Linked DNA regions of Homo sapiens. The protein of the gene in region 2 purifies or fractionates together with the protein of the main gene of each other region. This does not show direct contact. Each region holds a gene or a part of one and is shown on either strand. Other genes may lie near its edges.

Region 1 (3,746 bases), on a different chromosome or scaffold from region 2:
ATATCCTAAACTTCCTATACTACTTATCTATCTTCTTCCTACCTTTAGGAAAATCCCCACATTCTTCACTTTCTTCTTCACAGAAGTGAGAACAGTAGCTGGGCCATCCTAGAATTAAAAGGAGAATGAAGACACATTATTTAAAAGAGGCAATTTCATTTTCTAACCTAGTAAACGGCTGGGCAATGCTTTGAATCTTTTGGACACTAAAATGTTTGACAATGAATAAATATAGTTTTTATCCTTCTAACCTCTAACCTCTCGTCAGGAGCTACAATTTTTTTTCTTTTTCTTTTTTTTGAGACAGAGTTTCACTCTTGTCAACGAGGCTGGAGTGCAATGGCGTGACCTCAGCTCACTGCAACCTCCGCCTCCCGGATTCAAGTGATTCTCCTGCCTCAGCCTCCCGAGTAGCTGGAATTACAGACGCGCACCACCACACCTGGCTAATTTTTGTATTTTTAGTAGGGCCGGGGATTCACCATGTTGGTCAGGCTGGTCTCAAACTCCTGACCTCAGGTGATCCACCTGCCTTGGCCTCCGAAAGTGCTAGGATTACACGCGTGAGCCACTGCGCCCAGCCAAGAGCTACAATTTGGGAGGCAACATTGGGTAATCACTAATACAGGTTTGATTTGAAGCCTGGCTCAGTTGCTTTCTACCTCAGTGACATTTGGCAAGTTACTTAAACTTGTCTGTGCCTTCAATTTATCTGTAAATGGAGGTAATAAGAGTATCTACTTCACAAGGTACTATTTCAATGAATTAATGTAAACTGCTTAGCTTATGATAAAAACACTGAACTATCTGTGCTCACTATTATTAAAAATCAGTTCGCTGAGGGAAAGAAGCCAGTCACAAAAGACCACATAGGGTATGACTGAATTTACATCAACTGCTCAGATATTTAGCAAATCCTTAGAGAGAACGCAGTTTAGTCATTGCCTAGGCCTGAAGAACCAGTGGGGGAAGGGAAGGGGGATGGGGAGTGACTGCTAATAGGTTCAGGGTTCTTTCCTGAGGTGATGAAAATATTTTCAAATTAGATTGTAGTGATGGTTACACAAATGTGAAAATACTAAAAATCACTAAATTGTACATATCAGGTGGGTGAATTGTATAGTATGTGAATTGTAGCTCAATAAAGCTGTTATTAAAAAGAAAAAAGAATAACCGGTTTCATTATTAGTATTAGTTCCTGATATTATCATTATCAAGGTTCAAGCCACAATATGACAATATGATTTAAAGGTTTATATCATTCCCTATACCTGGGCTACAGTCTCTATTCCTAGCTGCATTAGGTTAGGCTGTCACACGGATTCTTCCCCTTAGCTAGCATTTAACAAAGCAAGAAAAAAACCACAGGGTCCACAAACGTGCCTCAGAAGTTAGTTCATGAAGACTCCAAAGTTTAGACACAATACACACCTCATCCACAAGCACTGTGTCACCAATGAACAGGGCATAGGTTTTCTCTTCTGGCTTTTTCCCCTCCTTGTTAGTCAGGTCTGAGAATCCTAAATTGATGCTGAAAACCATTCCTAAAACAGCAAAACAAGGATCAGTCTGTGGCTGTGACAATGTGGAGAGGTGTGAGACATATGCCTAAAAGAAAATAAAGCTAAAGGAAGTAACTCACAAAAGCATTTTCCTATTGTATGTGAAACTTACCTTTCTTCAGTTTGTATTGATTTTTGCTATTGATTACTAGGGAGCCTTCACGGAATTCAATTCCCATCCCAAACCTGAAAAGAAACAGATAAACATCAGCAAAAGGCTAAAGATCTCTAACATGGATCAAGCATAACATATTCATTTCAACTTTCACAATAAGACAGGCAAACATGTTTGAAATGATTTACCCCTGCTGACCGCTCAGTTAGAAAAGAGGATTCAAAGACAGTCTTTGGCCTCTAAACATGCTGTATAATCCCATGGCGAAAAATAATTTCCTAATTGATTATATCGAGCCTTTTTAATTTTAGCTTATTTGCCCACATTTAAACTTTAACCTTCTACCATAAAATCAAGTCAGTAGTACTCCTAGAAACAACATAGAGATTATTAAGGGGTACATTACTAAGACAGTAATTACTAGATTAAAAGGGGCAATTTTTAGTGGAACACTGGTAAACCAGATTCGTAAGACTTGTTATATAGGTATATATTTCCATGAGAGAAGTCTAGAAACTATATACCATAGACTAGTTTTCATCTAAAGAGAATGCCTACATAAAGCTTTGTTTCCCAAAATGTCCTTTGTTCCATTACACGTTATTAGGTATTTCTAGGTGTTCAGTGATAAAATACATTTGAGAAATGTATAAAATACATTTGAGAAATACACTGGATTGAATAAACAAACCAAAACCAAAACCAAAACCAAAACCAAAACAAAAAAAAACCCCCAAAACAAACAAACGGCCAGGCACAGTGGCTCACATCTGTAATCCCAGCACTTTGGGAGATCAAGGTGGGAGGACTGCTTGAGCCCACGAGGTCAAGACCAGCCTGGGCAACATAGCGAGACCCTGTTTCTACAAAAAATAAAAAAATGAGCTGGGTGTGGTGGCACGTGCCTTGGTCCCAGTTATTGGGGGAGCTGAGATGGGAGGATTGCTGGAGCCCAGAAGGTCTAGACTGCAGTGAGGCACGACTGCACCACTGCACTCCAGCCTGGACAGAGTGAGACCCTGTCTCTAAATAAAATATTAGGACATCTCAGAGTACTTAAGTTGCAAATGTGCACGGAGAGAGGAGATATAGTATGTATTGATAATATTTCCTAACATCTGTAATTATATCCTGGAAAACCTATGGGCTGGAACACCACACTGGTCTAGAAAAATCTCTCTTATACACTTGGGAGAACTTAAATCTGTCTCACCTTCTCTGATAACATCATGTGCCTGGCACATAGTATAGTTTGCTAGTCCATAAATGTTGGCTGAATCAATCAATTAGCCTAAAGAAATAAGACTGACCACTGACAGTCTAACTGAAAACTGACTCAAGAATGACAATAGACATCATGGCATACCCTAGGTTTTTGGTAATTTTGTTCAGCAGTTCTGGCTTCTGCTTTTTAACCACGTCCATGACAGCGTTATACACGTCACATATCTTCACACCTAATAACAAGACACAAAGGAGATATTAAAGTATCTTTTAGGAAAAAAACTCAGTAACATTTTAAAATCAAAATTTATGTCCCCTAAAGCAGTGTTTCTCAAAGTGTGAACTAAACAGTCCACTCACTTTTTTTTTTTGAGACAAGGTCTCACTCTGTCACTCAGGCTGGAGTGCAGTAGCATGATTACGGATCACTGCAGCCCTGACCTCCCAGACTCAATGATCCTCCCACCTCAGCCTCCCAAGTAACTGGGACTATAGGCACACACCACTATGCCCAGCTAATTTTTTATTTTTTGTAGAGACATGGTCTGCCATGTTGCCCAGGCTGGTCTCAAACTGGACTCAAGCAATCCTCCCACCTTGGCTTCCCAAAGTGCAGGAATTATAGGTGTAAATCACTCCACCTGGCCCCATTCTTTTTTTTTTGGATGGAGTCTCACTCTGTTGCCCAGGCTGGAGTGCAGTGGCGTGATCCTACTTCACTGCAAGCTCCACCTCCCGGATTCACGCCTTTCTCCTGCGTCAGCTTCCCGAGTAGCTGAGACTACAGGTGCCTGCCACCACGCCCGGCTAATTTTTTTGTATTTTTAGTAGATGGGGTTTCGCCG
Region 2 (3,746 bases):
CACACACGCACGACCCTGGTGTCTGAGCGAGAGGAGGGGGGTGCCAGGCCAGACCCTGCTCTGGGATCACACGCACCTCCAGCAGGCGTGAGATGGCGTCAGGCTGGGCCCGCGGGCAGCTGTCGTAACAGGGCCACACCACGCGGCGCCTGCTCTGGGGAGCGCCTCCATCAGACCGTTCTTCCTCTGGGGGTTCAGGGGGCCCCTGGGCCAGTTCCCAGTCATAGGGAGGGCCCTCGGCCAGCGTCTCCTCAGTGTAGAAGTCCCACACCTTCAGGTTGGACACGTTGCTGTAGGGCCGCAGGACCTGAGGGTGGGCCTGTGGTTGAGGACCTGGGTCGGGCAGGAGCCGCCTACCCGACCCAGGCCCCAGCTTACCTCTGCGTCCTCGGGCGCATACATGTAATTGTGGAACACAGGCGTCCTCTTGCTCAGCCGGTCCACATACTCCCACACAGACCTGCACGGCACCTGGCCCCTGCGTTCCCCCTTCTCCTCATACAGCAGCCCTGCACAGAAGCAGCACTGAGCCTGGGCCCCTCCTGACCCGTGGCTGCCCCAGCCCCGACTCCCCACATACCCAGCTCAATGCGCTCATAGTCAGAGTCGAGCAGGAAGGTCCGGAAACGGCGGGACACATGGTGGTAGCCGAGGAACTTGAGGTAGAACTGGCTGAACTCAAACTCCATGGGGAACTGCAGGTGGACCTGCACGCCATGTGGGTCAGGGGCCAGGGCTCAGCGGTCAGGGTGCACAGTCCCGGCCCACCCACACAGCGGCCTGCCCACCTGGTGTACGCAGTCCAGGAACTGCAGGAAGACGGGTGTGAAGCCGCTGCTCTGCCCGGCCAGGGTGTGAGCTCCACGGTGGCTGAAGCGATGGCCGAAGGACAGCCACTCCTTCTCCACCAGCAGGCGAAAGCCCTCCAGCGTGCGGTAGAAGGGGTCTGAGAGCAGCTGCACCAAGGATACCACCTGCCAGCACCGCCAGGAGGTCAGCGAGGAGCCCGGGAGCCTGGCCCACCCCAGCCCCACGCGCCACACACCTGGGTGGTGATGTCCCAGCCATCCTCCAGGCCCACCAGCACGGAGGAGCCTGAATCCAGGAGCTCCACCACCAGCACAGACACCTGCAGCAGCTTGTGGATCTGCAGGGACAGGCGGCCTCAGCACCTCGGGGACCCACCGCCCTCCCGCCTGGCCACTCACCAGGCCAGAGACCCGCATGTCCACAGGCAGCGGGGAGGCAGGCCCTGTCCACAGCCCCCCAAGCCCTGTATGCGGGCAGAGCACTGGACAAACACAGCTCGCTCTGGGTGTGCCGACCACCGCCTCCAGCCTGCTGGTCACAGCCCACCCCCTTCCAAGCCCTCTAGGACTGAGGGACGTCCCTGTCCCTCAAGATGCCGGTGGCCCTACCTTCAAGCCCTCCAGTGTTTACCAAGCCAGCATCCTGTCAGTACCCACCCCCGAGAGAATGCAGCAGGGGCCCAGAACCATAAACTGCATCCCCCGTGTGGTCATCAGCCCACGTGGGCCCAGCAGGCTGCTCCGACATACCCATGCCCAAGCCCTGGCCACTCTCACTGTCAGCTGGCCCCAGCCAGGCCCAGCCTCCCAGCTGCCTTCTAGGCACCAGAGCCTGGGTGGGAAGTGGCTGTCACCTCCTCCTTCCAGCGCTCCACACTGTCAGACAAGCAAACCTAGACCCGTCCACTTGGCTCTACCCAAGGGGAGGGCCCAGCACCAAGGCGGGCAGAGGGACGGGGCAGTGCAGAGACCTGGATCAGCCACTCTGAGTCCTCCAGTGAGCGCAGGAAGGAGGCTGGGCTGGGCTCAGCAGCGGGGCAGCCTGGGACACATGCTTTCAGCAGCTTCTTGAAGCTAGCCTTCACCTGCCGTGCCTCGAATACCTCAATGGGCACCAGCTCCCACTGCTGCAGGGGGTCTGACCGCACACCCTGAAAAGAATCCGGACAAGTCCCGTGAGACACATGAGGCCCCAAGCCCCCTGCCGAGCCCCCACCCTCACCCCCCACCCCCCGCACCCCAGTCACCTTGAGCTGGGCTTTGTCCCCAAGGATATAGAGGGCTGCTCGCTGCGGACGCAGGAAGCCCGGGTCGGGAGGGCCCCCGTTGGCCTGGGGTGGGGCCAGCGCGTCTCTGCCAGCTAGCCGGGAGCCCACATCGGTGCCAAGGCCACTGCTGCGTCCACTGGTCCGGACACTGCCCCACTTACCTGTGAAGGAGATGCCAGGTAAGCACCCAAAGGGGGCCAGGGCACCACTTACCTGGGGCTGGCTGGGCCCGGCCTCCAGGGAGGGGGCTGAGCTCCCAGGGCAGGGGTGGTTGGCAGGACCCCAGCAGGGCCGTGCGAGAGGAGGGCTGGAACACACAGATTCTGAGACGTGGGGTGGCAGCCAGTGTTAGTTTCTAGGGCAGGACTCACGGGTCAGGGAGGTAAGGACTGGGGCTCGGGAGACGGGTCGTTAGTGTCAGGTGTGGAGGGAGACATTAGTGCCCGCAATAACTCAGTGCACACTAGAGGCCGCCAGCACCAAGTAAGGGGAGGCGGGCCTGCGCAGGCTCGGTACGGTACCTCGGGGTGCGGTCCGTCTGGAGGCCGAGGCCGCCATGGGGTTGGACAGCGTGGTGACCCTGGCTCTGGGGCTGGGAACTGAGGGCACAGCAGAGAGAAGGCTCAGGCCTAGCCCCAGGCCTGGGCGTGCCCAGCTTGGGGGTGCCTACAGGTCAGAGGGTTCCACCAAGCCCCCAGGGAGCCTGGAGACAGCAGGGGTCAGCCCCAAGTCCCTGATCGCAGGAAAGTGGGAAGAGCCATCCTGGTGTGGGCCTCTCTGCCAGGGCAGGGCAGGCCGCAGAGCACTCCGTGGCAGCAGAAGGGCTATGCGGTGGGGATCCCGGGCTCTCCTCTAACACTTCCTTTCTTCCCACTCAAACCAGCTTAGAGCAAGTCTGTCTCTGAGTCCCTCCCTCCACATCCTGGCCCTTTGTCCTCCACTCAGGGGGCCAGGGCTTGTGATGGGCACAGCTCAGAACGCTCCACACATGAGCATGTAGACGCCTCTGTCCAGGGCACAGCAACAGGAGGTGCCCAAGAGGTGTGGCCTGGAGAAGAGGCGACCTGGAGGCTTCCCGAAGAGGGGAGAGGGTGGGCTCAGAGCCTGAGCCCAGTCCAAAAGGACGGAGAGCAGCTCAGTCCAGGACACAGGCAGATCTGAGTCCCAGGCTGAGGTTTACGGTCCAGACGACGTGGCCTGAAGGCACAGGGAGGACTGGCAGCCCAAAGGGCTGGGAGATGCCTGGGGTCCACAGAGGGTCTCTGGGCGCCTGGCCCTGCCCAGGCTCACCTGCTTCTGCAAGGCCCGAGGGTGGGACTGAGAGAGGCAATGTCCCCTCGTCCACCAAGTGGTCACTACAGGCCAAGCACAATGCCAGCCCAACACGCCCTGTGTCCTCTGACGGCTGCCACACTGCAGGCGCCCAGCTCACAGTGAGGACGCAGCACCAGCCTGCTTTGGACGCCAACCAGGGCCCAGTGTATCCTTGTAAAAAGGTCAGAGCTGGCCAGGCGCAGTGGCTCACGCCTGTAATCCCAGCACTTTGGGAGGCCGAGGCGGGCGGATCACCAGGTCAGGAGATCGAGATCATCCTGGCTAACACGGTAAAACCCTGTCTCTACTAAAAATACAATACAAAAAAATCAGCCGGGCGCGGTGGCGGGCACCT

The links. Proteins that work in one complex are often made in the same cells at the same time.
Region 1: the proteins of SBF1 (region 2) and SUPT16H purify together in Homo sapiens (affinity purification with mass spectrometry; 2 studies listed by BioGRID and IntAct, with this or other methods). This does not show direct contact.

What each region holds. Positions count from the first base shown.
Region 1 is NC_000014.9:21,363,396-21,367,141, forward strand, and holds part of SUPT16H (FACT complex subunit SPT16), read right to left. Parts: intron 3,135-3,746; coding exon 3,044-3,134; intron 1,749-3,043; coding exon 1,675-1,748; intron 1,545-1,674; coding exon 1,432-1,544; intron 109-1,431; coding exon 43-108; intron 1-42. UniProt on the Homo sapiens protein: Component of the FACT complex, a general chromatin factor that acts to reorganize nucleosomes. The FACT complex is involved in multiple processes that require DNA as a template such as mRNA elongation, DNA replication and DNA repair.
Region 2 is NC_000022.11:50,454,436-50,458,181, forward strand, and holds part of SBF1 (myotubularin-related protein 5), read right to left. Parts: intron 2,677-3,746; coding exon 2,599-2,676; intron 2,239-2,598; coding exon 2,057-2,238; intron 1,961-2,056; coding exon 1,781-1,960; intron 1,148-1,780; coding exon 1,046-1,147; intron 975-1,045; coding exon 789-974; intron 708-788; coding exon 581-707; intron 510-580; coding exon 379-509; intron 308-378; coding exon 77-307; intron 1-76. UniProt on the Homo sapiens protein: Acts as an adapter for the phosphatase MTMR2 to regulate MTMR2 catalytic activity and subcellular location. Promotes the exchange of GDP to GTP, converting inactive GDP-bound Rab proteins into their active GTP-bound form.